Linked DNA regions of Homo sapiens. The protein of the gene in region 1 purifies or fractionates together with the protein of each later gene. This does not show direct contact. Each region holds a gene or a part of one and is shown in the gene's direction. Other genes may lie near its edges.

Evidence for each region.
Region 2: the proteins of DCN (region 1) and CHSY1 purify together in Homo sapiens (affinity purification with mass spectrometry; 4 studies listed by BioGRID and IntAct, with this or other methods). This does not show direct contact.

Annotation. Positions count from the first base shown.
Region 1 is NC_000012.12:91,169,535-91,184,972, reverse strand, and holds the start of DCN (decorin isoform a preproprotein), read left to right. Parts: upstream 1-2,155; 5' UTR 2,156-2,318; intron 2,319-5,493; exon of another isoform or gene 5,494-5,611; intron 5,612-6,326; exon of another isoform or gene 6,327-6,387; 5' UTR 6,388-6,420; coding exon 6,421-6,631; intron 6,632-15,438. UniProt on the Homo sapiens protein: May affect the rate of fibrils formation.
Region 2 is NC_000015.10:101,231,584-101,247,021, reverse strand, and holds part of CHSY1 (chondroitin sulfate synthase 1), read left to right. Parts: intron 1-11,444; coding exon 11,445-11,940; intron 11,941-15,438. UniProt on the Homo sapiens protein: Has both beta-1,3-glucuronic acid and beta-1,4-N-acetylgalactosamine transferase activity. Transfers glucuronic acid (GlcUA) from UDP-GlcUA and N-acetylgalactosamine (GalNAc) from UDP-GalNAc to the non-reducing end of the elongating chondroitin polymer.

The DNA of each region.
Region 1 (15,438 bases):
AATGAAAAGTGGATTAGGCATGAGAAGACCTGGATATTAGTTTCTGCTTTGTTTCTTGCCAGCTCTGTGAACTTGGGCAAGTCACTGGGCTTCAATTTTCTCATTTGTAAAACAGAAATAGTAAATATGACTTATCTTGTCTAACTCAAAGGATTGTTTTGAAATATGTCAAGACATAATAAAAGCTTGCATTTACAGAGATTTTCACTTATAAGGATTAAGTTCTGAGTTAAGTGTTTTATATATATTGCCTTATTTAATCTCCACTCCAACACTATGAGTTAGGTAAGAATTTGTATCCATTTTTCAGATATGGAAACTGAAATTCAGAGAGGTTAAGCAAGTTGCCTGAGTTCATATAGCTTACTATCGGGGGGAAGGAACAAGATCTAAATCTTAACCATAATGGTTCTGCTTTTATAAAAGTAAAATTATCTACATAAAAAGGCATTATGTCTTTTTTTCTCCTCCTCCTCATTTTTCTTCTTCTACTTTTTCTTTAATACTTCCTTTTCTCTCTCTCTGTCTTGTAATGATGGCCATAATTTGTCATATACACTTTAGTAGGGTTAAGTTTTGATAAACAGTAAGCCAGGATTGGGGCAAAACACCAGTCCGGGTACGGTCCATAGCCAATCATTTGATTGTCTTTACTAATTTAGCAAATGTATCTTGGTAACTTAGTATATACCATGGCTATTCTGGGTGCAGGGATTCTACAAACATGAACACAATGTCATTCCTCCCTTGGAGTAAGACACGTACATAAATAATTATAATATGAGGCAGGAGTGATTATATGTCATCAAAAAGAGATAAATGCCATATAAGGAGAGTTCAGAAAGGAAATTAATAAATTCCAAGTAAAGGGGATCATGGACTTTTGCACCAATGTCCAGGGACAATAGTGCTTGCCTTTGTCTAAACTATCAGAATAACTAGATATGTGGTTATTAAATGTTAAGGAGATGCAGAGTAGGGTAAATTGTTTATCTGAGAGGCTGGGCTTAGGAAATAAGGCAAACTATAACGTGGTAACACGCCTCCCCCTCCTTAGATACCACTTGAGAATTTAATTTCTCTAAGTTTTTTTGAGGAAAAAGAATATTTACTGTGGAAGAATATACTTTGATGGCTGGAGGAGGGAAGGAAGGAGGCTGGAGGATGGGAGGGGGATCATCTCATGTTTCAAACTGTTGATTTCCAGTTTCCACCTGGTAACAGCCTAGGGGCCAGAGCATAATGATACAAGTCAAAACACAGAGACCTACACAGAGACAACTAACAGCATCCAGCAAGGGAATTATAAAAGCTCAAAAAAGATTTCCAGTGGCTAAATAAATACCTTTCCTTGTAGTTGCACTTGTTTTTCTTTTCATTTACTGAAATTTGGAAAGACACATAGACTCTATTGCCTTTTCAAAGTTCTAGTTTACATAAAAGTATAATCTATGAAAATCAAATTTTTCATATATAGAGGATGAAACTATGTTGTGATCAACTACAGGTTATCTATGTATTTTATTTAAAAACTGGTGGACAGGGAGAAAGATTTTAAACTATGATTAATGAAAGTGATAGATGACATACTTTTCATATAAAACCATGACTTTCTTTCAGGACACTTTAGAAATATGTCCAAAATATACAGAAAAACTCCACAGCATAGTGCTTGAATTTACACAAACATTCCAAGGCAAGTAGGAATCCGAATGAGTAGTTTCACATAAGGCTACTCATTTATTTTTGCAGTCCACATTTAAAACAACTACAAGATTAATTTCATTCCATTTTTCTGGACTTACACATCCCAAAAGCAAGAAAAAAATGTCATTTTGGAAGTATAATAAATGCTACTTGTAAACAAGGCTAGAAAGGGTGGAGAATGAAATGAGATGGGGGGTGGGGAAACAAACCCTTTAGTTACAATATCTTAGGGAAATGAATCTACAATAAGACAAATTTCAAATCAAGTTGCTCCACTATACTGCATAAGCAGTTTAGAATCTTAAGCAGATGCAAAAAGAATAAAGCAAATGGGAGGAAAAAAAAGGCCGATAAAGTTTCTGGCTACAATACAAGAGACATATCATTACCATATGATCTAATGTGGGTGTCAGCCGGATTGTGTTCATTGAGGGAAACCTTATTTTTTAACTGTGCTATGGAGTAGAAGCAGGAGGTTTTCAACCTAGTCACAGAGCAGCACCTACCCCCTCCTCCTTTCCACACCTGCAAACTCTTTTACTTGGGCTGAATATTTAGTGTAATTACATCTCAGCTTTGAGGGCTCCTGTGGCAAATTCCCGGATTAAAAGGTATGGTTTTCAATAATTGTCCTGAACTCTGCTACAGACTAATAAAACTTCGGTCAAGTTGCGAGCAAAAGGGATTATTTGGTGAGAAAAAGAAAAGGAAAAAAAAAACTGTTAAACTTTTATAGTTTTTATGCAACATTTTAAACAAGTATTATTTGAAAACAGAAGTTAAATATTTGATAAAATGATTGAATGCATTGTTTTATTTCTTTCTCTTCTGTTTTTGCAAAGATGCTTCTTAAAAAACTGTAACCTAACACCATGACTCTCTATATTAATGTTTTTGTGTTTGTATTAATGAATGTTTAGCTCTTCAAGAGATGGTAACCGAAAAGTATTCTGAAGTAGCATATCTGTAATTGACCTATATATTTAAAAAATGTATTTTTCTCCTGAATTTTTGATTGCTTTAAGGACTTTTAAAAGCCCAGAAGAACTGAACTCTGGTGATTAGCTGAAAATACCTAATGTATATTTCTTCAACCCCAGAAATGAACAGAAATTATCACCAGAGAAGTGAAAATAAACATTGAAAATATTTATGTTATTAAATGCCTAAGATACTAAAAACGCTGTATAATTTCTTAAATGTAAAGTGTCCCAGTCAGTATCTTCACTGCAAGTGAAATTTTAAGATACATTCACTATAAAATGAGGATGTGGGTTAATTTTCTAATTTTAAAACAGGGTAACACAGTGACCACTGATTAAGTGGGCTCCCAGTGATGTAAATACCTGTGGCTTTTTTTTTTCCTGTTGCTGTTTCTAACCAGAAAAGAGCCAAATGCCTCCTATAGTAACCCTTGTTTGTGGATAAATGCCGCCTTTATTCTTTATTTTAAAATTACATATATTATAATTGAAGTTTTTAATCATCTAGTGCTGTAGGATTTTAATTTTGTTTTGCATTTATAGCTTCACTTATCTCTTGAGGGTTAAATTTTGACTTTGAAAGTGACACCAGAGGCATAGATAACATAATGCAAATGTTGATCTGGATGACATACTTCATTTAATGGGCTTAACTAGTTTTAGGAACCAGAAATTATTATTTTTGGTAAAACATTTGTAAACTATGGCAACTAGCTTCAGTGGAGTAGTGATATTACATTAGTAATTAGCATCTTGGACATTGTCATGCATTTTTAGACTACTTAAAACAGTTTCAGTATAATTTAAACAGCATATCATCTCAATAACAATCTCTTTGGTTACTACTTGGACAGCTGCTCTTTGCTCTTTATATTTCTGATTAATTAAGGAAAGAAGGAAATGACGAAAGGAATTATCAGTATTGACAGCCCACATTAAATGTTTTAAGATGCTGGGTCTTGAAGTACCATGACACTAATTTAAAACAGATGATTTTATGGAAGATTTTGCACAAAGTTTCTGGACATGCAATTATTTTTTCACAGTACAGTCAGGGTTAAATGCACACACACACATACACTCTCTCTCTGTCACACACACATGAACACACACACATACATTCTCTCTCTCTCACACACACACACACACGAGCAAATGAAAATGAAATAAAGGTCGGTGATTGAAGTTATAAGCTGCCTGTCTATATTCAGCTTCAATCAAAAAGAATATTGTTTGGAGAATTTGTACCATTTTAACAGGAGTAAACAAACATAAATTATAATACTATTTCTCTCAGCTAATACTCAACATTTTCTTTTTGTGGGTTGTTAGTGAAACAACCAGGCATGTTCTGCTCTGGAGAAAAGATTTCAAAGTGACATCTGCATTAACTGTCGTTGCTATTTATTAAATCTGCAATGACTTTGCTTCATTTTTCTTTTAAACTTGTAAGACATTAAATATGCAAGGCTAGCAAGCTTGTGGTAAACCATAAACATTGCATTTTTAATGGGAAACAGATACAAAACCACTCCCTCAGATACAATCCAAAGGAACAGGCTGCCAAAACAAAAGTCTTCTCTTAAAGGGATACTCAGTAACTGAATGAGAGTGGGCTGCTAGAAGAAGCTTAATGTTGAACTTAAAGTGGCAGTGTGAATAATAATCTTTATGATATTTTGTTAAATGAAAAGCCACAAGCCTGTATTCAACATGTGCTGCCTTAGACACATATCAGTAGTAAATATAAACTAAGAACAAACATGTAAGAAACTGAAAAACATTTGTTTCTTCTCTAGAGAATCTAGGCAAAAATTCCCAGAAGATACCTTAAGGTTAGATCATACAAAGATCTTTCTTTTCTCTTCTCTTCTTTCTTTCTCTCTCTCTCTCTCTTTCTTTCACTTTCTTCCTTTCTTTCTTTTTCTCTTTCTTTCTTTCCTTTTCTTTCTTCCTTCTTTCTTTCTTTCTTCCTTCCTTCTTTCTTTCTTCTTTTTTTTAATATGCTACAATTGGATAATGACTCAAAACAGCTGTAAGATTCTACTTACGAACGTACAGCTTTAATATGGATTCGTCTAAGTGTACAATTCAAGGTAGAGATGATGGGACTAAATATCTGCTATGATGGGACTAAATATCTACTATGTTTTGGAGATATCAGAATGGTTTCAATGCAATTTAAAAAATATTTCATCTCCCAAATGACTTTGCTGCTATATAATCAAGTACTTTTGTTATTCAGATTTATTACGATTTTGTCACTCAGATTTATTTAGTGCACTTCAGTTGATTTAACAACATAGATTCGTGCTTGTGGAATGAATGGATAAATATGGAATACATTTATCAAAACAATACTTGTTTTTTTACAAAATGCCCTGTTAGCAAAATGAGATCATATATACATCACATAAAAATCAGAATTTTCCATATGTGTTTATTAGCTTATTAAACATAATGTTTGAGAAACTAGGAAATTGATTTATTTTTTAAAGCCGATCTTGCTTATACCAAGTTGAGGTTTTCAATCTGCTTTTTTTATATCAGAAATTCGATACTGAAAAAAAGCTAATTTTGTGTTTTAAAAAATCAGACTGATTGCTTGGAACAAATGGAATAAATCGTCTTGTCAATAAAGTGATGGTCAATTGAGTCATTTGTGTGCAAAATATTGTGCAAGGCCCGGGTACAGAACAAGGAATAATAAGACACGCCCTGAAGGAGTACATCGTCTAGTGAGGGACAGACCAAGCACGCAAAACAAATTGCAATATAATGTGATAAGTTCTTTAAAAGAGGTAAGAGCAACGTGCTTTGGGAGCAGAGAAGAGGGAGAAAGCAGCATCTTGCCTGGATGAGCCAGGGGACACAGAAGAGAAGCCCACTATCTCATTTAATCTTTACAACTCTCTTGCAAGGTCGGTATTCTACATGGCAAGTAGCTTTGATTGTCAGGGTTCAGGTGAGGACTGGGAATGGAGTGACAATGAAAAGGAATGTGGCTAGAGCTATTAATTCATACCAATTTATGAGTGGTCTGACATACAGCACAGGGACTGTGGACAGTATTGATAAGCCATAGGAAGTTAATAAATGGTTTATAGTAGAAATTAATAAGACAAAATTGAATTTTTAGACGATGACTCAGGCAGCAAAATGGAAGATGGACTGAAATAGAGGAAATATGCAAGGCAGAGATGAATTAGAAGCTCTTGTAGTAGTTTAGGGAGAGATGAGAAGGGCCTGGATCAAAATAATTGTGGTAGGATGGAGAGATGTGACTGGCTTCCAGAGATATTTCTGAAGCAGAAATTGGAGATCTCCTATGTGGATAGAGATAATTTTATCTGACCATGTGTTAAGTGAGCATTGAAAAGCCCAACATGATTTATTACCATGACAATTTTGCAAATGATTTGGATATATAGTATATCATCTTAGTTTAGACCCAAAATTCAAACAAGCAGATTTAAATAATACTCAGATTTCTCATCCTAAGTAAATAGCTGTGCAAATGATACTATAATGTACCTGATTGTCTTTCAATACATTTTTAATGCTCTGCTTCCTGATAACAAATGAAATATTATTTTGCATCTTTTCTCTGTGCTCACTGTATTGTGGCATATTATATAAGAAACGACACACAGATTAGGCAGTGCTACTCTTCTTAAATCTCTCATTTGTTTCCTAGGTTCCCTGGTTGTGAAAATACATGAGATAAATCATGAAGGCCACTATCATCCTCCTTCTGCTTGCACAAGTTTCCTGGGCTGGACCGTTTCAACAGAGAGGCTTATTTGACTTTATGCTAGAAGATGAGGCTTCTGGGATAGGCCCAGAAGTTCCTGATGACCGCGACTTCGAGCCCTCCCTAGGCCCAGTGTGCCCCTTCCGCTGTCAATGCCATCTTCGAGTGGTCCAGTGTTCTGATTTGGGTGAGTGGGATGCAGTTTCTCTTTACCTACCTTACTTGTTTTATTCTTGGGAATGGCAACTCTGAGAGTTTAGCATTTTCAGTTTTAATCTCTCTAAATTTGAGAGACAGTGCCACCTAATGAGGAGTAAAGGAAGCAGAACAGGATAGAAAGAAAAGTAGCGTTGTTGTTCTCTCTTTCTCTCTCTCTCTCCCTCTCTGTCCCTCTTCCTTTTTTCCTCCATTACTTTGCAATCTTGGACAAATCATTTTTAAAAATATTTCTGAGCTTTATATCCCTTCTTCTACAAAATAAAATTTTGAATTAAAAAAGTCTTATGTTCTAAAATTTCAGAGTAATGGTTTAATCTTAATTCTATAATATGCTTTTATAAAATATTAGATATTAAGAAAATCAGGTCAGTCTCTCTACTATTCACTTAGCCCAGACAACAGAGTTTCAACATTACTAAATTGTAAAATAATCAGTTATCAAAAGCAAAACACATCAAATTTTATGACAAAATCTTATCTTTCAAGTATCAAAATACTCCCTTAATCTCTGAGTCTTAGTTTTGTCTTTACTTTTGACATTTTGTAATCCAGCTGCTTATATTCTTTAGAAAGTTTCAAAGGAAATATTTATCACTAAGGTATGGTGTAAATATTCAATATAATTGTGTTACATATATCTTTAGCCTAACACCCTAAAGACAGTTTGATTTATCATCTTTTCAGAAAAATTTGGTCTGGAAATTCCAAGAGCATTACACTTAGAAGATAAATCTCCAGAAAGATTGAAGCTCAGTGGATGGGCCAAAGGGGAATGAACTCAGTTTACATGGCAGCTCATTCACATTCCTCCTTTTGAAGGGGTGTATTTTCTTACTGGAGATGAAAAGAAAAAAAAATCTTTATATCATGATTCCGCCATGTGTACTTCCTTCTGGAAGAAATTCCATACTATGATCAGGCACTTCTTTCAGAAGTCCTATATTTACTCAGAACATGCTTTCTAGCAGTAGTTTGCAGAAGAAAAATGCAACTTCTACAATTGGAATAAACTGCCTATAGGAACCCAGAAAAAATATAAAGTATATTCAGTAGTAACGACTGAAAAACACTTGAAATAGCTTCTTCAACACATATATTGTATAGCTATTTAAAACCCAAATACAAATGTTATATGAAGACTTTCAAAAGGCCGCAGGATAATTCCAATGGATCTATTTGTTCAGTCATTCAGAAGCTATATCGGGAACCCATCATGGATGAGCTCTGCTCTAGGCATGGGGAGAAAGGATGAGGAAGACAAATATGGCCCTAGTTCTTGTGGATCTTATGTTCTAGTGGTGGTGACTATTACTTTTTGAATTGTGTATTTGCCACAGGGGAGATTGGATTACTCTTCAGAAATTTTATAAGCATCTAGAGATGACCTGCATTATTGCCTTGGGCAGGAAAATAACAGGGTTGAAAAAAATCTGAACAAAGAAATCACCATTTGATGGATATACACAGGATAATCTTTTCTGAAGTTACTAAAATGGCGAAGTTCCCAAAAAATGTAATGCGAATTAAATTTCACTTTGCCTCTGAGAAAAAGTTAAAAGAATTTATTATTACTCTCGCTACATGTATTATCAAAAATGAAGGGTTGATATTTTTAAGGAAAGAAGAGTTGGCCAGTCACTTTAGTGAAGTTTTATTTTTTCGTAAATATAGTTTGCCTTTGCTTCCATGAAAAAATAGCTCATAAACCTTGACCCTGATGAAAGCACTGGGCCAGTTTTCCAATTCTCTGTTATGTAAAAAGGCATAAGTCAATTGTTCAAAGTGAAACAACAACAACAACAACAAAATGTAGTCTTAGGAAGCAGCAAGTTCACTGACTTGGGATCTTTATGACAGTTTTGTTGTTGCCATTGATATTGTTTTGTTTATTTTTTGTTTTCAGATGAGAAAGTTTTCTACATGTTATCTTTTTTCTAGGAGCTCAAAGTGTACATCATTCCTTTATTATAGCTAGGTTTACTGACTCATATACTAAGGAAGTAGCTAAAATTATAAAAATAATTTGTTTTTAAAACCATATTTAACTAAGGGAACTAAGTAAGTTCCAATGAGCAGTGGTCTCATGCAAGGTATTTTCAATATTTTAAAATTTACAGATGAATATTTAAATATATTATAAAAGTTTTAATCAGCTATCTCTAAGAAAATACATTTCTTAAAGGGAAATGAAATTCACTTGACTTTAAATAAAACAAATGAACTCATTTCATGTTTTTAACTATTATCTAACTCTTCCTTACTTTATGATGCTGGCAAGCTGTTGAGAGCCTTGACATCTCCATCTGCAGAAAAATCACAGTCTTAGAAATCCTATTAATCGTGTGAGGTACCTGGGTCATAGTAGCAGCTTCATGCAGTGTTAAAATTATATGATGATTATATGCAGTAACAGATGAAGAAAAAAAGAAAGAAAGCAGGAGAAATGCACCACCTCATTCATTGTAAATGCAGTATAGTTGATTTTTTAATTTGTTTTATGTCCTCTAGTGATCTAAGCATGAAGCTTGAATTATTATAATAAAGAAAATAAATGCAATGCAGTTGGGGATGGCAAATGTTAATGCTTATCTGTATCAAAGACTAACACTGTCTTCAGGATTATCCTTGGTGGATTATCCTTGGCAGACACTTAATGAGCAGAGAGAAGCTACAATGTTGAAGGACAAAAGTCCTTTGTCATCTTATTATCGAAATAATGTTTAATACAAATAAACTTTTTAAATTAAAATGTTTGACTACTTTTTACCACTAAGAAATATTCTTGGCAAAGTTAAACAACATCAAAATTTTAAACAATTCTTTCAAAGCTAAGAAGTAAAAACCTATGAAATTAAAATTATGTAATTACTCTGCAGGATAATTTGATGCCTCTGGAAAAATGCATGGACTGTTTTAGTCCCTAATTCTAATTTATCACAGTAGTATTAACACGTGCTTTTTTTTTTTTTTAAGAGGATGAGGGATTGAGACAGTAAACATGAATTCCTCATAGATATTGGCCAAGTTGTTTCATTGAACTTGTTGCAACTTACCTTGTAATTGGAACCACAATTTTATGAGACCCATATCTTGTCTTCTTTTATCTATCATGTTAAGAAATAAACCAGTTCCCTCTTAATTATAGCATTTATTTCAAAAAGCAATGTTAAAAATAAATGTAGAGTTAGCAAATTCAGAAGTCTTTCAGTTACTTTATAATAATAAATCCACAATGTAACTCATTCTTCTAAAAATCAAAAAAATTTAAAACGTTCTGATTTTGATGGGATTTTCTATTTTATATGCTTGGCATCCTGAAGAAGACAGCTTCCCTTACTTAGGTACTCTTTGGCTTAGCCATTCATCTTTGGATCAAGTGTCACCAGGTAGTATAATTTGGTATGGACTTAACACCTCATTACTGAAATGCAAATCAGTCCTGACAAGTCAAATAAGAACAAGTATTGTCTTTTGACTAGTCTCCAAAATTAAAATAATAATTCTTGATGTATTTCTTATAAACAAATTTCAGAAGAGTTAAAATGCCTCTTAAAACTATTTAATAGTGGAAAGAACTTGGGCTGTGCAGTTAAACACCTCTGATCTCAAATTCTGCTTTGCTGTTTACTACCTGTAACCTTGAAACTTTCAAAACTTTGTTTCCTCATTTGATAAATGGAAATATATCTTATTTCACTGGGTAAGAATAGAAAAATATATGCACAAATGTTTATTATAGTAACTTACATTTCACTTACCATTTCAGGCAAAGTTGGCTAAGAACATGAGGCTGTTTCTGATATTTCCTTTTATTTTTATGTATTAATGAGAATAATAGGTATAGGCCATATACTTATTAGAGACTCTCAATGACTTATACTTATTATTCTCAATTCATATTATATCATATTATACTCATTGAAAATAAGCCATATACTTATTAGAGACTTATTTAGAGTCTTATTAGAGACTTATTAAGAGTCTCTAATAAGTATATGGGTTGTCAAGCTAGACACAAAATAGTACCATCTCTCTCCACCTCTCTAAAGAGGACCACATCATCTCCAAATGTAAATAGACAAGAACAAAAAAAATTGTGCATTTACTAGGCAATTGAATGTTCTCCAAACCAATATTCCTTTGAACAAAATGAGTTTGTTTGATTTGAGAACAATGAAGTATTTGGCTATTTTATAATCATAAGTGATTCATACCCCCACACACTTAGCCCTCTAGAAATGGTGCCAGAAGATGAAACACATTTAATTTTGCCATATAGAAGCATTGCAAATAACTACTGGTTTCTAATAATGTACCTTATAATGCAAATAATGTTTTAATTTTTAAAAATATCAGAAAAAGTACAACCTTTTAAATTATGTAGTTGCTTCTTCTTCATAATCATTTTTCTTGAACTGGTGAAAAATTTTGTCAGAAGTTACCACTTGGGACATATTGTACTACAGCTTCTCGCTTGGCTGGAGAAACTGGTTTTCCAGAAGCAGACCTTATACAAGAGGTAAATGAACCATTAGACTTCTCCCATGAAATCAACCCAGAAAAATAAATTAGGACTATTTTGTAGAGGAACAGACAGAATGCTAGAGGCTCAGTTGCCTTTATCATTTATGTCTGGCTCTGCAGCAGCAGGGGTGTGAGGTGCTCCTCATTCAGAGTTTCGAATGCACCAAAAGGGTGTTTCCAAAACATGATATGGGAAGGAGGCTGTGCACAGAGTATGACCACTGGATTGCCTAAATTGACATTGGGTAGGAGTGGAGTATGGGTGATCTTCAGATGAAGCAAGAGTAATGCTCAATGTGACCTGGTTAAACAAGTCTCCTGAATCCAGGGGTTAAAGATGGAGAGGAGGAAGAGAGGGAGTCAAGAAGGTCAAAGGGAGCGTCTGTCTCCCTGACCTGAATGACAACTAACATAGCCCTTGTTTCCTTCTTGGTCCCCAGGAGGGAGAGAGAGGCAGCTGTGTGGGATCAAGGCATTTTGTGAGATTGCAGCTGTGATTCATTTTCCTTTGGAAGAACATCCCTAGCTCCAGGGGATATGGTGGGAATTGGTTAGCTAAAATATCAATTCCCTGGGTAAAAGAGGAAAACCATGAGACCCTCTAATCTTAACTTTTCTCCTTCAAAAGAGTGGAAAAAGATTACATAGTTCCTCAAAAATTAAAAAAAAAATGAGTCTGCAATTCAGTCTTAATAAAAAGAGAAAGCCCTTAGCATATATACTGTAACAGTAAAGACTCAGTTACTCTTGACTTAGTCTGTGGACTGCTTTAACTTCTGTAGCTTGCCTACTTCTGCCTTTTTTACTGTAATCTACATTTGCTTTGATTATTCTATAATAATCAATTATATATACATATCTGTGATTATACAATATCTTTTATCTTTTTATATATCTATTTTATTTTTTTTCACTAGAAAAGAAGTATTGCAATAATTTATCTTCGTACAACCTCTACACAACAAACTGCCTTATACTTTGTAGACTCTTTACACATCACTGAACGATTGATGAATGAATACACGAACATATGCATGGCTTGGTTCTTGAATTAATGCTTGGATGAATATTCTACAATATTCTTGACTCTAGCAAGCTGCAAAGAGAAGGGAACATGCCTGATTGAGAAACAAAAGTGATTTCTCAGTGCATCCTTGCTCCTTCCCTTTAAGGACAACTGTAAAACCAGGAAGCTTAGAAATTCCTTGAGTTTGACTGGAAAGAGAATAGAATTAAAGAGAAGAATCATCTATGTATGAAGCCTGGTCTAACTGATAACGCAGTCAGATTGCCATTTTTAAGATGGAAAAAGGGGAACATGCTTGCCTTGAGCAGAAAAGTTTTTGGTGGGGCTGGAGCTCCTAAATATTATTTTGGTCATTTGCCCAAAAACTGAAGTACACCACCAATGTCCCAATTATGAAGTTGAATACAGAATTATAAAAAAAAATTGTTGAAAGTCAATAAGAATAAATCTTAGAATTTGGACTCCTGCCACATGGCAGAAAAAAAGCATGATGTTTTAAGACAACCTGGCCTTTGTCCAACATGATGTTTACCAGATTGCTGACATTTTCTAGCATAACAATACTATTCATCATTGGGATAACCAAAAGAAGGGAAATAAAAAAAAAAAGAAGTCTATTTCTTACTAGTCTTTATTCAGAAATGATTTTTTTGGTAATATCTTAAGTAGTATCTTATTTGCTTTAATAAATAACTTGATTTTAAAGAAGATAAACCTCCTTACAAAAACTGGGAGAGCAAATGTCTAATCCAGGCTACCTTGAAAATAGTGTGTTTTAGTGGAAAATTTAGAATTATGTTAAATAAGGCTGCTCAATGAAAAATAAATGTAGGAAACCACTATGCTCCTGTTACTACAGCTGAGTGAATTTTACCCCAAAACATGGTGGCTTAAAAAAAAATTTAATTTGCTCACAACTTGAGGTATGGAAAATTTGGGAAGGGCTCTGAAGGGCTGTTCTCACTTGGGGTCACTCTTGCATTTGTAGTCAAATGTTACCCGGGATTTATAATCTTAAGAAGGCTAGCCTGGGCTGGACACCTGTTCACTCTCATAACTGACAGTTGCTGCTGCTGTCGCCCACAAGCTTGGCTGTTGTATCCTCTGGATTGCCTCAGACAGCCTCTCTTTTTTCCTATGGCCCCTGGCTGTCCCAGAGCAAGCATCCCAGAATTGGGTAGCAGCTGTACAACCTTTTCTGACCTAGTCTCAAATGTTATGGTGTTTCAGGCTATTGATTCCTAGAGGCATCACAAGGCCATCCTGAATTCAAAGGGAAGAGAGAGGAATTAGATGCTACCTCCTAATGGTATTGGGATAAATGCATATTGTAGAAGAGCATGCAGGATAGAAAATTTAATGTATGCCATCTTTGAAAAATATAATCATCTACATATTTACTTACATTTATATACATTTCTAATGAGAAGTTTGAGCATAATTATGTATTATGTAGAGAAAGCCCACAGATATTACATGTCCCCCATGAAGGTCATTATTTAATGATTACAAACTACATTAAGATGTTAAATAATTATAATTAAATTAATTTACAAATTAACTTCATAGTTACTTAATTCTTCTACTTAAGATTGTGAGAAAAGTATTAAGTCGTACCTTAATGACTTTGTTTTCATTATGGAACATTTTTTGGACATAAATTGAACCTGGCTAATTGATACATATAATTTAAAATGCTAACATTTTACTTTTTATATCATTTTATGAATAACCATAAAATTCATCAGTATCAATAGGAATTATTTAGTTAAAAATCACATACAATTAATACAATCATAGGCTTAAAGGCAGAATTTAAATTTGTTTATTTAAAAGTTAAAAAAATTAAGGTAGGATAACTGTTTCATAGAATACTATCTGTTTTTATATTTTTTGAAGATTAGGTTTAGTTCAAATAAGCTTTTTGCAATTATCAAAAATAATCTCTGGTCCTCGTGTATTTCTACCACAATTTACTTCCGGCTTGGTGTTTTCAGATGAGGAAATGGAGCCTGAGGAATGCTAACTTACAGATTCCGGTCATCTCTCCTTAACAGCCAAGTTGATTTTAACCCGAGCCATTCTGACTCTAATGATGTACAAACAAAGAGTAATATTTTATAGATTTGCAAAAGAGTGTAGCATTTGCTACCATTAAAATAGGGTTAAATTGACCAGGAGCAGTTTTTGAGGAGTCTAATTACTCATTGGGGATCATGTGCTTCCTAAACTGAAGGCTTATCCAAAAGCCCTGAACTTGGTAGACAAGCACCCCAAAGGCCCTGAACTTCATGGGAACAATGATGAATGCAGAAAGACCAGGAAATAACTGTCAAGACAAAAACATTTCAGGACCAAGATCTTTAGATGAACACCTTGTGCTTGACATACCTGAAAAACAGATTTCAGCCTCTAGGATAATATGCATAGTAATTGTACAGAAAAGAAAGAGTTACAGATGAATAATCAGAAAGATTATTCAGAAGGATAATGAGAGCAACACCCTCTATTTTGCTTATTAATAATAATCATAGGTAGCAATACTTGAGACGCTGCTATGCACTATGGTAGGAGATTATTTTGTAGCATAGCTTATTGAATTCTCACAAAAATTCTGTGAAAGACTTAAGAAAACTGAGGACAGAGGGTTTAAACAATATGTCTTCTAATTTTCTTTTTCTTTTTTTTTTTTTTTTAGACAGAGTCTTGCTCTGTCACCCAGGCTGGAGTGCAGTGGCGCGATCTCGGCTCACTGCAAGCTCCGCCTCCCGGGTTCACGCCATTCTCCTGCCTCAGCCTCCTGAGTAGCTGGGACTACAGGCACCCACCACCACGCCCGGCTAATTTTTTGTATTTTTCAGTAGAGACGGGGTTTCACCGTGTTAGCCAGGATGGTCTCGATCTCCTGATCTCGTGATCCACCCGCCTCGGCTTCCCAAAGTGCTGGGATTACAGGCGTGAGTCACCGCGCCCGGCCTCAATATGTCTTCTAATCTTAAAGATAAAGAAGAGGAACCAGAATTGAAATTCACATAACAGTCTTATAAAAAAATGTTATTATAGGAGCATGTTTAAATATGAAAATTCTGCAGAATAAAATGACCCCATTGGGTACCCACCACAGAGCTTCAACCAGTGTCAACTAATGCCGTTATTTTTCTATCTCCACCCACTTCCATATCATTTTGAAGCAAATTCCAGATATATGATTTTATCTAACAATA
Region 2 (15,438 bases), on another chromosome or scaffold:
GTTCTAGGTAATTTCGCTTTAAAATGGTACTGTGATTCCTCTGAAGTCATTTATTATGCAAATTAAGGACAGCTTGTCAGAACCTCTGGGTTTCTTGTGTCTTGCATTACTAGCTGCAATTCGTATTTTTCCCATATTTAAACATTTTCTTTTTAGTTATGTTCTGTGATATATGGAAGGGAAATGTTCATGTAGTTCAGTCTATGTCTTTCCCTTTCTGATTTTAGTTTTCTCTACCCCAGGTTCACAGTTACTGCCCTGGAGAGATTTTTAAAGGTAACGTTTCCTTCCTAATTCTAGAAAGGGTAGAAATCATCTCAACTTTATTTTTTCCCCAAATAGTATGTGGTCGCAGCACCATGTACCGTTGACTAAGTTCTCATTTCCCTACCAGTTTGAAATGCCATCTTCGTCATGCTCAGAATTCTTGGGTATGTTTCTGGACTTCATGTTTTGTTCCGTTGAACTTTCTGTCTGTTCTTGTGCCAGTACCACCCATTGAAATTATTGGAGGTTGAATAATATTTTAATATCCGGTGGACAAGTTCCCCTTTGTTATTCATCTGCTTCAAACATTTCTTGGCTACACTTACCTTTTCTTGCTGAGAGAGTTTCTGTGCTATTTAGATTTTTTTAATCAACGTTTTGATTAAAAAAAAAAAAAAGCCACACGTATTTTGCTTATTCGTCCATTTTTATGCCCAGAACCTTGAGCTAATCCAACACCTTTTGTTTGTTTTGGTTCTTACCCTCTCTGGGCTGAAGATGGGGAATAGTTTTGTTCTTTTTTTATGTTGTCAGAAGAAAGAGGTGGATGGTTTCCCTTCTTTGCGCCAAGATTGAACAAGGGCACCATTACAGATTAGCATCAGTCTGTAGGGGACTGTGGGAAGAAAGTTTGAGAAGCATTACCTAGAGATATAGGAATCTGATTTCAGGATACTATTATCAGTGAATGATCTCTTCCTAATGCCTTAAATGAAGACGGACTGTTCCTCTACCAACCTTAATGAGATCCTCCTATCTTATAAATCTGAATTCATTTCCTTATTTCTTGAGCTAAGTAAACCATGTTTATCTTGAAACAGTTCAGAGCAGTCCTCACTTTCTTAGATAGAATTCAACTTGGCAAACATTTATACAGAAGGCTTTTCCATGTAAAATCCAAATAATCAACCTGTAAGTGAACTTTTGGAGCACCAAGTCATTTCAGATCGTGAATTTCCTGTAGGAGACTAGGGAACCATGTGGCTCTGAAAATGAGTGTAGTTTTTTATGTCAGGTTCAAGATCTTGAAGCGCTCAAACAATATTCCAGGGATTTCCAGGGATGGCTGTGGCTGTCAATAGCGGATTGATTCCAGGGATAGATGTGGCTGTCAATAGCGGATTGTGCGTGACTGTTTCCATTGCACCGGCAGCTTCACGTTCCCCTGTCTGTTAACTAAGCTGCTCTTTATTAACAGTAGATTCCAAATACAGGGCCCTAGTCTCTGCAGAGTTCATTGTCTCAGAAGGAAACGAGCGATGGTATTGGTTGATGAGGGCTGTCAGGGTGCGTGAACTAATCACTGTGGGGGAGCAGAAGAAAGAGGCTTACACCCAGTGGGTGATGGATCAAGAAATGTCTCACCCACACTCCCACCCTTTTTTTACCCACTAGCTGAGTCTTGGAAGATGAAGAGGTGTTTTTGAGGCAGAGACAACTACAGGTTTCCTACAACATGAAATGGCAGGAGTTAGTGAAGGAGCGATGGGAAAGGCCAGCTCTTTGGGGCTAGGTGTAGGCTGTGGGTGGTAGAGTGGTGGGCAGGGACATGGAGGGAAGGTCTGCGTGCCAGGCTTTGTGTGGTTGCTGTCCAGAGCTATTGGTGACATTTCGGCAGGACAGTAGCCTGATGGGATGTGTGTTTTGGAAGATCAGCCCAGCGGTGTTGCTGCTGCAGAGGGTGGCTAGAGTTGGTCAAGTACCGGTACCTAGCTAGAGCTGGACAGGACCGGTACCTGTTGAGGGACGCTTGGGTAGCATTTATCAAGAAGTCTAAAATGCAGCTCTCTTGAGGTCTGGCAATTGCTCTAGAATTTTTTCCAAAGGAATTTTAAAGGTGTGCTTAAATGTGTACATATGAAGTGGAAATTTCAGGTATTTTAGGTGTCCTGCTTTAGGAGATAAGGACCAAAATTGACTTAACTGATTCATCCATACTGTGGTCTGCATCTCTAACAAGTAAAAATGGTGTGGCTGAAATACTTTTATTGACATGAGGAGAGGTTCAGAATATACTTAAGTGAAAGTAAACTGTAAAACAGTATGGCCAGTACAAAGCCCTTCTGTGTTTAAAGTAAAACAAAAGTGTATGTTTGTGTAGCATAGAAAAGGAAACATCAAAGGATGTACTCACTGTGATGCCAAGTGATCTTTTATATTCTTCTTAGCTCTTTTCTATATATTCTGGTTTTTCTACAGTAAGCAGTTATTTTGTAATAAAGCTACAGTAAAACCACAAAAAGATGTCAGCTCTAAGAGAAACTGCATTCCATTTTGAGCACGTTAGGCTGCTGGTGTGGAGGTCCGCTAGGCACAGAGCTGCAGCCCGTTCTCGTTTCAGTCAGTTACCATTAATTCTGTCCTGAAGTGACAGAATTAGCTTAGCACACATTTACTTGGTTAGTGTCACAACCGTTTTCCTCAGTTACTGTAACTTCACGCTTCCAGGTGACATTGGGGAGGATCTGGTGGCAGCATTTTCAGTGCAGGGGCCTCAGCTTTTGTATCTTAATGTAAATACTCAGTGCTTCCACCTGTTGTTGAGGCCTTTTTGGCTTCTGGTTCCGGATGGCATTGGGTGAACAAGAAAACCTAGCTACAGTTTACAAGCATAAAAGCTGTCCATCTTCTCACCTGAATTCAGTGTCATCTCTGAAGCATTTATAGCTGCAGCATTTTTTCTGTAGACAAATACATTTTCTGGATGATTACAAATAAGGTCCAGTCTGCTCTGATGTGGTGTCAAGTTGATGCCTGTAAACCAAAAGCCTGAGGATTATTGACTGTAGGTGTTGAGGCCATTGAAATTGTGGTTTTCTAGGTGGACCATAGGCGCAAAGACTGTTACACTTTGCTCGGCGTGTTTGGTAACTGATGGCAGTGTCTGCAGGTAATTGGGCACAATTTAGAGGCGCACACGGATCCAGACACAGAATGTGGCCTCAGAAGCTAACACTGGAATCAAGTTGTCTGGCCTTCAGTTAAATCCAGCCCAAGCACTGCAAAGTTGTCCTTGACCGGCAGGTTTTGTCCAGGTTTTCAAGTCGCCAAGCCATGCATGCTGGGAGTGGGTCTGAAAGTGGTTGAAGTGTGTGTAAGGCTGGTCTCCTTATCCACGATGACTGTTTGTTCAGCCTTAGCAGTGTCCGTGAGCCTGGAAAAGTGATGTGGGTGACCACCTGGGAGGCGCGTGTGTGGGATGGAAAGCCAGTGTGGAGGCTGTGGGGCCAGGGTGGCTGGTGACTGTGTTTAGGTGGGCTTTATAGAGGACGGTGCCTCAGTTCAGGGAGACGGTGATTTGCAAAGTGGTCGGCCAGAACAAGTTCAGGGTGGTTTAATTGTTTGCATTAAACGATACTGATTTTTGGTTCATGTGGATCATTAAGTATTAGTCGCATATTTATACTTTTAAGGATACAGCAGCGATATGCAAATTATGAAAGGAGCTCTCCAACACTTTCAAGCTTTGGAAATGTCTCATGAGATCAGAATTCGTCTTCTGTCATTTACACTCCAAATTTTAATTGTGATGTTTCAAAAGTGGCCTATTTGTGGTCTCTGTTCCCATTGTTTGCCGTGAACCTGGGCTCAAAGGGCGGGCTCCTCGTAGCTCTTAATACCTTGGAATGCCGTCTGGGCTTGTGCCCAGGCCATTGTTGAAGTGGGAGGCTGTAATCCCCCCTGCCAACAGCTTAATTAAGAAAAAAAAGGGCTCTTTACTGCTTGCTTTCCCCTCAAGTCTATTTTTTAGGATGGACAGTAAGGAGTATAATTTGGTTTTTCTTTTAAAATAATTTTCCCACCATTCACAGCCTCTGTTACATTTTCCCACCTCCTTTCAAAAAGGGTTTGAGATTGGACAGGTCATAAGGACGTGCACGATGAGACAGTTAAAGGTTTTGAAAGAGGAAACCACATACCCGGAAACCACATGCACAGAAGTGGGAAACTGCAGCTGAATGCATTTGCTGCAGAGCTTTTGGGACCAAGGCAGAAGATGGAGATGAGGGATTGAACAGTGTTTGCAACATCCTGCCAGAGGGGATTCCTTCCGGCCGAGGAGAGGCCCGTGGCATCACTTGGTGGCCTTGAAAGACCCCTCCCTTTTCTGAAGGCTGTGGCTCTGGCTGGCAGCATAGAGTGGTGCCCTCCGTGTACTCTCTTGGAGGATGAACTTGGACTGCTGCTCCATCACACTGTACTTCCTGTAAGGATACCTCCATCATTGACCTTGGGAGAAGTTTCCCTCAGGCCTTAGTATGTTTTTACACTTAACCCTGAACAGTAGGACACAGTCTCGTGACTTCTCATGGCTGCCTGCTGAAAAGTTTGTAGCTGAATTTGGGCCCACCACTAGCACATCCGTAGGTCACGTGATGGCAGGTAGGTCTCAGCACAAGAGCACTTTGCAGTTGAAGTGGTGGCTCCTGAGAGTGCTCTCACTGAGTCAGGGTTTGCCCTGGGCAGGGCAGCCTCCACCAGGATTTGCCTTTCGTTCCTTGCGTAAGGGTTTCCTACTCTTACTTTTCTTTGGTCTCATTTTCTTGCTGATTTTTCTCATCCTGTATGATTTTGGTTAAGTTGTCTTAAATCCCTTCTGTAACAGGGGAGAATGTAAATACAGCTGGCCCTGCTATCTGCTACATCTGTGGATTCCACCATCCATGGATTGAAAATATTTGGGGGGAAAAACAATAGAAAATAACAATAATAAAAACAATACAAGTAAATACAATATAGTATAACGACTATTTACATAGCATTTACATTGTATTAGGTATTATGAGTAATCTAGAGACTATTTAAAGTATACAGGAGGGTATGTGAAGGTTTAAGCAAATACTGCACCATTTTATATCAGGGACTAAAGCGTCTGTGGATTTTGGGGTCCTGGGATCATTCCCTCTTGGATGATAAGGAACAGCTGTATATACCCTTAATTCCTATTATCCATCAGTTCTACAGAGAGAAAAACCCATATCCTCCCTTCTTTAACTTCCAAGATGATTTTATCATGAGTCCTTTTAAACTGACTGCCGTGTAGCCATCAGACAGCACATGTAATAGTGATTTTGGGGAACTCACAGAAAATCTCCCCACCTTTTTAATGGTAACTAGTAGAATAACTATTAAAGCTTAAAAATCACAATTGAAACGACTCAATCTTACTCCATTTTTCTTTCAGTTTTTCTTGTTGGATAAAAAAATTTTATTACAAAAGTAAAAATTCTCTGTTGTTACATGTTTTGATTTCTTTGGTTGCTTGTTAGCCTCAAAGCTTTTGCCCAGTTAAAACTTTTTTTCCAGCTCTAAATATACCTGTTGCAGAAAACTTAGAAAATTTAGAAAACACAAGGAAGACTATTGGCCGGGCGCAATGGCTTCCGCCGGTAATCCCAGCCCTTTGGGAGGCCGAGGTGGGCGGATCACAAGGTCAGGAGTTCGAGACCAGCCTGACCAACATGGTGAAACCCTGTCTCAACTATAAGTACAAAAATTAGCTGGGCGTGGTGGCAGGTGCCTGTAATCCCAGCTACTCGGGAGGCTGAGGCAGGAGAATCGTTTGAACCTGGGAGACGGAGGTTGCAGTGAAATCACGCTGTTGCACTCCAGCCTGGGCGACAGGGCCAGACTCCGTCTCAGAAAACAAAAAAAAAGACTATTAAATCCTTTCTGGTTTTCCCATCCAAAAATAACCACGGTGAATACTTTGGGGGTGGAGTTGTACGTTATTTTATTTTTGTATATGTACTTTTGTTCCCTTGGTAAGCCACATCACAAGTATATACTGTTGCCTGCTTTTTAAGCTTACCCGTATATTATGAATATTTACCTAGGACAAGAGTCATGCTATAGATGCAGTTTTGTACAGAAGTGTATTTTATGTAGTTTTTCTTAAAACAACACTGAATGGAAATGGAGACTATGATATTAACCCATTTATGCCTAGAGTTCCATTATTGGAACGCTAAGCTTGTGGGAGTTATTTATATCCCGCTCAAGGTTATCACCAAAGTCTGATTTTTTTTCCACACAAAAAAATCGCAACCTCTGACATAAATGGGTTAAGTCCTAACCAGCAAAGGCATTCCTTAGCTAAGCTAATACTGGTCCAGCTGAATTACTTAACTGTGATTTGACTCAGTGTAGGAATAGCGTTTAGAAACCTAGAGTGATGGAGGATTCACTTGGCACTCTCAAGTTTCAGCTGTCTTATCTGGGCTTGAGCAAGGGTTGGACATCAGTTCATTGAAAATGAGCTTTTTCTGGCAAGGCCTCTGCAAACGTTTTGTCATTTCAATTAAGTGAGAGTTCTTTGCTCCCGGTAACAAATGTGTTGATGGCAAAGCTGACGTTTGCTTATGAAAATGAAGGAACTGGACTTGTTGATATTGCAGAAGAGGGGACAGCTTGCTTCTTTGGGAGCATTCCCTTCAATTATTTGAAATTATTAATGCATCCCCTCCTCCTCCTCAGGATGGTGGTGAATCACGATTTATGTTCCTGAACTCGTTCACTTTGTGGAGCTCTTCAAGTTAAAGGACCCTAATTGAAAAGATTATAATTTCTTAAGATTGGAGGGTTTACAAAGACTTGACATTGAGAGATTTCCCTCAAACCAACCACCAGTCATTTAGAACAGAAAAGGACAACATGAGGTTTTTCCCTGAGTTACCTAAAAAGGAACAGATAATAATTGGGTGGAGTTACCATAAAACTGTAGGGTTGAGGTTAGACTGTTTTTAAAATTAATTGGTTTCTCTTCTTGGGCAAATTACACCATTTCAGTCATAGTTGAGACATTAATTGCGTCTGTGCTGGTTGTACTGCTGGGGCCTCTTTCACTGTGTTCTTCCTGGTGGGGTACACGGGAAGCAGGGCCAAACTATAATGAAGCTTCATCCTCAGTCTAGTAGGGAAGTTTCTCGTGCTCTACCGCGAAATGCTCGTGAAATTTGCAGTTAGGCCTCTTTCCTGTAACATTGTCTGAAGTTGATAGTAAAAGAGGATTTCAGTACATAGCTTGAGGCTCAGGTTTTAAGAAGCATTTTCCACATTACCTTTGCTCCGTGTGCTCCTGAGACTGACTAGTCCACGTGGAGCCCACACTTTCCTGTTCTTTCACTACCTTATTTGATTTGCAAACTCTTGTCTTCCTTAATAATAAGTCATACTTACATAGTGCCAGGCAGGCTTCTAAGCTGTTTACAGAGAGCTCATTTAACCCTCACAACAACCCCCGTTTACAGATAAGGAAACTGAGGCACAGAGTAACTTGTCCCAAGTGGAGCTGGAGTTCTCGCCCCCATGGCCTGATTCCAGAGCCAGCTCTTGCGGTGATGCTGTAGATTCGCCTCCTTAGTTGGTTGTTCTTTGAAGGCAGGAATTGTCTCGCCCACCCCATCTCCCAAATAACATTACAGTGTTTTAGTATTTTCATGGCTTCCTAGGTTGAAAATTTCTCAAAGTACAAGATAGAAATGATTTCTGACCTTTTGCAAACACGTGTGGCACCATTAAGTTACTTATTGTACATGAGTGGGCAGTATTCAGTGCACACATTTAGTGACCTCTATTATGTGCCAAGCACTGAAATTATTTACATTTTCAAAGAATTGTTGCGACTGCCAAATGAAAAACATTTCTCTATAAAGAGAGCATTATCAGGGGCTCCTCGACTTGAATGGGGGGTCATTGCACTATAATTTTGTCCTTACTAACTTCCCAAGGCTGGAGGAGTTCTGAGAAGTTATCTCCCCTCCATATGTCACCGCATCAGAAGACTCTGTATAGCTTGTCACACATTCACACATTGTCGCATTTGCAAAAGGACTTGTCCCTTTGTAGGTGGGATTGGTTTTTCTTTAAATTAATTTCCACATCTCTACGTTTATTCTACATCCTTTTTCTTCAGGAGCATATCCTTTGTGAAAATGAAGTGCAGTACCTAGAACAGTATCTGTTAATAACCGTGGAATGAATGTCTGGGCTGAATTTGTTTTTTGTTGTTATTCTTGTTCTTTGTTAATGAGTTATTTAAGTGGCGTAAGAATACAGGTCCATTTTAAATCCATAGGCACTAAGGGAAAACATTAACAACACCATCTTATATCCATTCTGTGATTTTGACATCTCAGAAATTAGGATGCATTTTATAGTTACCGGCGTCATGGGATTATGATTGGCAGTATTTTTTAAATTTGTTGATAGATAAAACAATGGTGCATCTTCCAGTTAACATCCTAAATGTGATGAAAAAATGTATATATTTAATCCTTGCACTTTTTGAGAGGCGTGTTGGCAGAAAGTCGAATTCCATTGAATTTTGCCTCTACTTGAAAGAGATACATTCGAAGTTGTTTTGTATTCCTCATATTTGGGTTTGGAAGAGAAATAAAAGCCAGTCATTTGTTTTCCAAGTGCTTCATTGTAAGTTCTTTTTAAAATTACAAAAGTAAATATTTAGAATCTCAGTTTTGCAAGATGAAAAAAGTTCTGGAAATGGATGGTGCCGATGGTTTCACAACACTGAATGCTGCTGAACTTTACATTTAGAAATGGTTAAGATGGTAAGTTTTATGTTATGTATATTTTATCACAATTTTTTTTAAAAAAAACAATATGATACTTATGCAGTTGTCCTTCAATATAGAGATGCATAGAATAAAAAGTGAAAGTCACCTTTGTCCACACACATTCCAGCTCCTCCCAATTTTCCTCCTTGTGTACCTCTTCCGCAGAGATTTGGTGTGTATCTTTTCAGATATTTCTCTCCTAAGACTTTCCCTTAAAGATGTGTGGGGGTTTCATTGATCCTTCAAGTAATTTTTCACTATAATAAATACACTTGTAACAGGTAAAATAAAAAATATTTGAAAGAACATCATTTGATAACTGCTTTTTTTATTTTAAGATTAAATTTACTATTTTATTTATTCTCCACGATACATTTTTCTTGGAAGTAGTCTGTATGAATGAATTATTATAGCCAAACAACTTTAGATCTGAATACAGAACGTGAAGAAAGTAGGAGGGAAAGTGCGATATGATAGCCTTCAATTAGCTGCTCAGCAGAAGCAGCCTTTACGTGGTTTCCTCGCAGTTGACCACTCATCTTCCCTCTGTCGATGGGCAACCGTTGTCTCTTACACCCTTTACGTGGTTTCCTCGCAGTTGACCACTCATCTTCCCTCTGTCGACGGGCAACCGTTGTCTCTTAAACCCTTTATGTGGTTTCCTCGCAATTGACCACTCATCTTCCCTCTGTTGATGGGCAACCGTTGTCTCTTAAACCCGGGTCTGGGCTGCTGCAGTAGTTTACTCAGTGGTCTTCCTGTGTCCACTCTGGCTTCCTTCGGCCTTCTTCTCCATTCCTAGGGAGTTCAAAATGTGTGGGCCTTAATCTTGTCTTCTGCCGCATTCCCTCTAGAGGCTTCCTGTGGCTCTTGCAACATAGAGGCCTGCATCTCTAGTGTACTCTGCCAGGCCTTGCACATTTGCCTCTGTTTTTTTTTTTTTTTTTTTTTTTTTTAGATGGAGTCTTGCTCTTTTGTCCAGGCTGGAGTGCAGTGGTGCGATCTCGGCTCATTGCAACCTCTGCCTCCCGGGTTCAAGCAATTCTTCTGCCTCAGCCTCCTGAGTAGCTGGGATTACAGGCACACGCCACCATGCCTGGCTAAATTTTGTATTTTTTTTTTTAGTAGAGATGGGGTTTCACCATGTTGGCCAGGCTGGTCTTGAACTCCTGACCTTGTGATCTGCCTGCCTCGGCCTCCTAAAGTGCTGGGATTACAGGCATGAGCCACTGCCCCCGGCCACATTTGCCTCTATATTAGTCTGTTCTCACACTGCTGATAAAGACATACCAAAATAGGTAATTTATAAAGAAACAGAGGGGTTTTTAAAATTATTTTATTTATTTATTTTTTTGAGACAGAGTCTTGCTCTGTCTCCCAGGCTGGAGTGCAGTGGCACGATCTCGGCTCGCTGCAAGCTTCGCCTTCCGGGTTCATGCCATTCTCCCGCCTTAGCCTCGCTAGTAGCTGGGACTACAGGCGCCCGCCAGCACGCACGGCTAATTTTGTTTTTGTATTTTTAGTAGAGACGGGGTTTCACCGTGTTAGACAGGATGGTCTCAATCTCCTGACCTCATGATCCGCCCGCCTCGGCCTCCCAAAGTACAGGGATTACAGGCTTGAGCCACCATGCCCGGCCCAGAAACAGAGGTTTAATGGACTCACAGTTCCACATAGCTGGGGAGGCCTCACAATCATGGTGGAAAGTGAAAGGCACGTCTTACTTGGTGGCAGACAAGAGAGAATGAGAGCCAAGCAAAAAGGGAAACCCCTTGTAAAACTATGAGATCTCATGAGACTCACTCCTGACCATGAGAACAGTGTGGGGGAAGCTGCCCCCGTGATCCACTTACCTTCCCCTGGGTCCCTCCCGCAACATGTGGGAACTGTGGGAGCTATCATTCAAGATGAGATTTGGGTGGGGACACAGCCAAACCGTATCAGCCTTCTTCCTCGCCTCATGACAGCGCTCTCGTGCCCTGCATTCCTTGATGTTTACCCTGTTTCAGGGGAAGGCTCCCTGTTCTGTTGGTTCAGCTCATGTCCTGTGCTCTGCCCTTTGGGAGTACTTCTCTTAGTTCATAATAATATATACATTAGTCTCATTATTCTGGTAAGTGTCTGTCTCTCCTGATGTCCTCTCTGTGAGTTGGGGATCACGTTTTTGTTCACCACCACATCCCTTTAGCTTAGCACATACTTGGCACTTGGTTCAAAGAAAATTTTTTGAGTGAACCATTTGATTTTGTTTTTTGTTTTATAGAGTTGAGAAGTTCTTAGGTAGGGAGTTGATAGTATCACAAAATTAATCTGTATACCCAGACCTTGGTCCCCTGGCAGTTTGGTTTTCAGCCATAACTAAAACTTAGTTATCCCAGAACAGTTTTAACACTTCTTCATTTTTTGTTGGGGTTCTTTTGAAAGTTAATTTAGACTTTGCAATACGCGGTAACCTGGGCTTTCGTTAAGAGGAACCAAGCAGGCCAAGTAGCTTTTTATCATTCCATTGAACACGGCGATACAAGATGAGCAGATAACGTGAATTCCTGAAAATCAGCTTGGAATAAACTGTTCTCTAACTGATATTTATTTTAATTCCAGAACATGGTCCAAGACAATTCCTGGGAAAGTTCAGTTCTTCTCAAGTGAGGGTTCTGACACATCTGTACCAATTCCAGTAGTGCCACTACGGGGTGTGGACGACTCCTACCCGCCCCAGAAGAAGTCCTTCATGATGCTCAAGTACATGCACGACCACTACTTGGACAAGTATGAATGGTTTATGAGAGCAGATGATGACGTGTACATCAAAGGAGACCGTCTGGAGAACTTCCTGAGGAGTTTGAACAGCAGCGAGCCCCTCTTTCTTGGGCAGACAGGCCTGGGCACCACGGAAGAAATGGGAAAACTGGCCCTGGAGCCTGGTGAGAACTTCTGCATGGGGGGGCCTGGCGTGATCATGAGCCGGGAGGTGCTTCGGAGAATGGTGCCGCACATTGGCAAGTGTCTCCGGGAGATGTACACCACCCATGAGGACGTGGAGGTGGGAAGGTGTGTCCGGAGGTTTGCAGGGGTGCAGTGTGTCTGGTCTTATGAGGTAAGAACAGAATTCTTTACCATGGGAAAAACTTAATTTTGTCAATTTTGTCATTAGTTCTGAGCGTATCATAGGAAACTAGAGATGATATCCTCTTTGAGGGTTGAAGTTGGTATTATTCTACATTTTTAGCCTTAGATTAAAAAAAAAATTCAGTTCCCCTTTATTACCTTTTCTTGGCTTTGAGCGCATATCTTCTGTACTTTTTCTCCCCCCAGAGAGAGTCTTGCTCTGTCTCCCAGGCTGGAGTGCAGTGGCGCCATCTCGGCTCACTTTAACCTCCGCCTCCTGGGTTCAAGCAATTCTCCTGCCTCAGCCTCCCGAGTAGCTAGGATTATAGGCAGGCGCCACCACGCTAGGCTAATTTCTGTATTCTTAGTAGAGACGAGGTTTCACCATGCTGGCCAGGCTGGTCTCGAACTCTTGACCTTGTGATCTGCCTGCCTCAGCCTCCCAAAATGCTGGGATTACAGGCGTGAGCCACGGCGCCCGGCTCTTCCATACTTTTGTCCTAATACTTAGTTAATAAATAATGGCATTTGGGGCCTAAAGAAAAGATAATGGGTTGCTGATGGTCATGGTGATATTTTCTTGATTATCCAGAAAATCATCTTGTCTGACTTCTGCTGATTCCACAGATGTAATTGCAAGAATGTAGGATATCTCCCTATTTGTTTTTGCAAAGGCCTGGCTCTTCTCTTCTGGTCATAATGACCTACACAGATTAGAAACTTAACGTGTTTTGAATTTATAAAAGGAATCATGGTATAAAAAAGCCAATAGCATTTGACTTCGCATTTGTTGTGTACCTTGACTGTTCAGATAGTTACTTTAATCTGTGAGTTTATAATATAGTTGTTGCTTTCAGAATAGTTGTCGTGCAACTTCTGAGTTACCGTGACACATAAATGAAATTTGCCGAAGGAAGTCCGCTTGTAGATGTTTTCTCTGTAGCAGTTGTAGAGAAGATGGACTGGCTTTGGACTTTCCTGTGTTGTTGCTGCACCCTTTGCCTGCAGATTGCACAATCTGATACCAGTTAATGGTGAAAAAAATTATTGAGGTTGTATTGTCTTTAGGTTGATAAACTCCTGGCAGTTGTGAGGAGCAGAGGTAATTGCTAGATCTTTTGCCCAAGAAAAAGAATACACTTTCTAATATGAACTGTTAGCTTTTTTCTGAACTAATGTTCTAAAGCACGTACTTGAGTGAAAGAGCAGTATTCTTGCCTGTACTTGTCCACCCCTAGACTTGCTTTTAAATGTCTGCTAATCACTCTTACTTTTTTTGTTGTTTGAACTTTAGGGAAGTGGACATTTTCAAGCATACAGGGAGTGGCCATGTAATTTTTAATTACAAAGTCACAAAGATACATTTTAAATCCTAAATGTGATCTTGAGTGAACTCTTCAATCCCTGTGTGCCTTATACTATCCCCCCAACCCCAGCACATAGGGGACAGCTCACTGGGCCTACGGGATCTCTCTGTCGTCACGGATTTTTGCAGCGAGGAAAGCTGTTTGAGGGTTTCACGCTGTTTTAAGCAGAATACAGCTGGCAATATTTCTGCATTTTTCCCCATCCTAAGAAAGTAGTTATAACCTTGACACATTTCATTATGGTTAAAATAGGTAACACATTGTATATTTTGGAACACTTTCCCCTGACCATCATCTCCGAGAAGCCAACCTTCTTGCCGGAATCATAGAGGACAGACCTTCTTTCGGGAGAGAATTTTTAAAAGTATGTCTTAGTTAGGTCGTGCTGTTATATACTGCTGGACAGACACCAACAGAGCCAGTCTCTTGAGTTTGATCAAGAACTTGGGTTTAGCGTTAGTGCCAAGAGGTAGTTAGAAAGTGTCATCCTGGGGCTGCAGGGTGGGAGGCCATTTTGGAGATGATTTTCCTCTGACGGGAGGTAATCACAAAAGGTTTCTGATGGCCTGCGAAGGGGTGCATGGAATGATCCTGTCTGGACACTTGGAGCCCCCTCTGAGGCTTGGTGCATCCTGTCAGTGGCCTCATCAGCTGAAGGGACCTGGTTGGTGAGGAGGCCTCCTCCCCGTGTGGTCCCGTCTCCCTGCCTTGGGAGGTGGGTCAGGGACAGCAGCAGCAAGGCTCTCCTTGGGAGTGTGGTTATTGGGCCTGCTGCTGCTCTGCGTTTCTTTAAATGCCCTGTGGTGTCAGAGCTTTGACTGACTGCTGCAGGCTTCTCCTGGGCTTGTGCCACAGGGCCCTCCCACCTGCAGTGCCCAGAGCTCTCTTTTTCTCTTCTGTGAGCTGCCTTGCCTGTTCGTAGTCTTGGCCCGTATTTCTGCTGAAATGTTGTCTTACAGTTTTGTTGAAGTGCTTTATTCTGGATAGAGTATCTTTTCTCAGACTGTGACTTAACTTTTCACCTTAATTGTGGGATTTTTATTGTACGCAAATTGTGAATCTAAGTGCAATCTAATGCATCATTCTTTTCCATTACGGTTTGTGCTTTTGTGTTTAAGAAATTCTTCCCTTCCTTAGGTCACGAATATGTTTTCTCCTGTATGTTTTCTTACATGTTTGAAGTGTTCCCTTTCACGTGTAGTTCTTCATTATAATGTTAAGAATTCATCTATTGGAACACTTGCCATCTTATTAGACCTTTGATTTCTATTTTTTTATTTTTCTTTTTATAAAGCTTTAAGTGCTTCTAACCTAAGTTGTTATTAGGTTTATCATTGTGTTCACCACTCAGGTAAGATTAATCCTTCGTGTGGATGAGGAACTTTTATTAAACTTCCTGTAAATCTAGTTTCCCCATTAAGGTTCACATTATGGGAAATTATTGAGGTGGAGTCTTATGTTAAAGACAATTACGTTAAGCTTTGGGACTTGGAAGGTACTTATTTTGCCCTATTATAAGCCTAGCCAGAAGGTATAGTGTTTTTTTTGGCGAGTAGAAATAGTACCTTGGGATGACACTTAGGTAATTAAAATGACTTGTGAGGAACAACTGTCAAAATCAAAGTCTAGATTCATTTCTAAACTTGTTTTGATAATTATTGGTGGTTATTAAAAAATAGCCTTGAGAACTTTGTTTGGAAATAATGTTAAACTCACAGAGAAGTCAGAGGATAGTGAGAGTGTAGGCCTGGAGGCTGGGGAAGAGCTGGGAGGAGCTCAGCTCCTGGCTCCCCTTGCCACATGGTGTCAGCAATATTGACTCAACTCAGGTGAGGTGTTTTTGAGAATTATTATTGAAAATTTTGAAATAGGAATTCATTTTATCAAGGCAAATACATGAAAAGCTATACTACTCTTAAGAGGGAACAAAAAGAAAATTGACTTAAGTAACCTATTCATTTTGTCTTTGACTTTTGCTTCGACGTGTACTGTACGTATGGAAAAGTGCATAGGTCGCAAGGGTCAAGCCCAGTGGATTTTCACAGACTGCACGCAGGCAACCAGTAGATCTTTCTTCTATTATTTTCTCATATTTGACTAGGGGTGAAGCTGTAGACAGT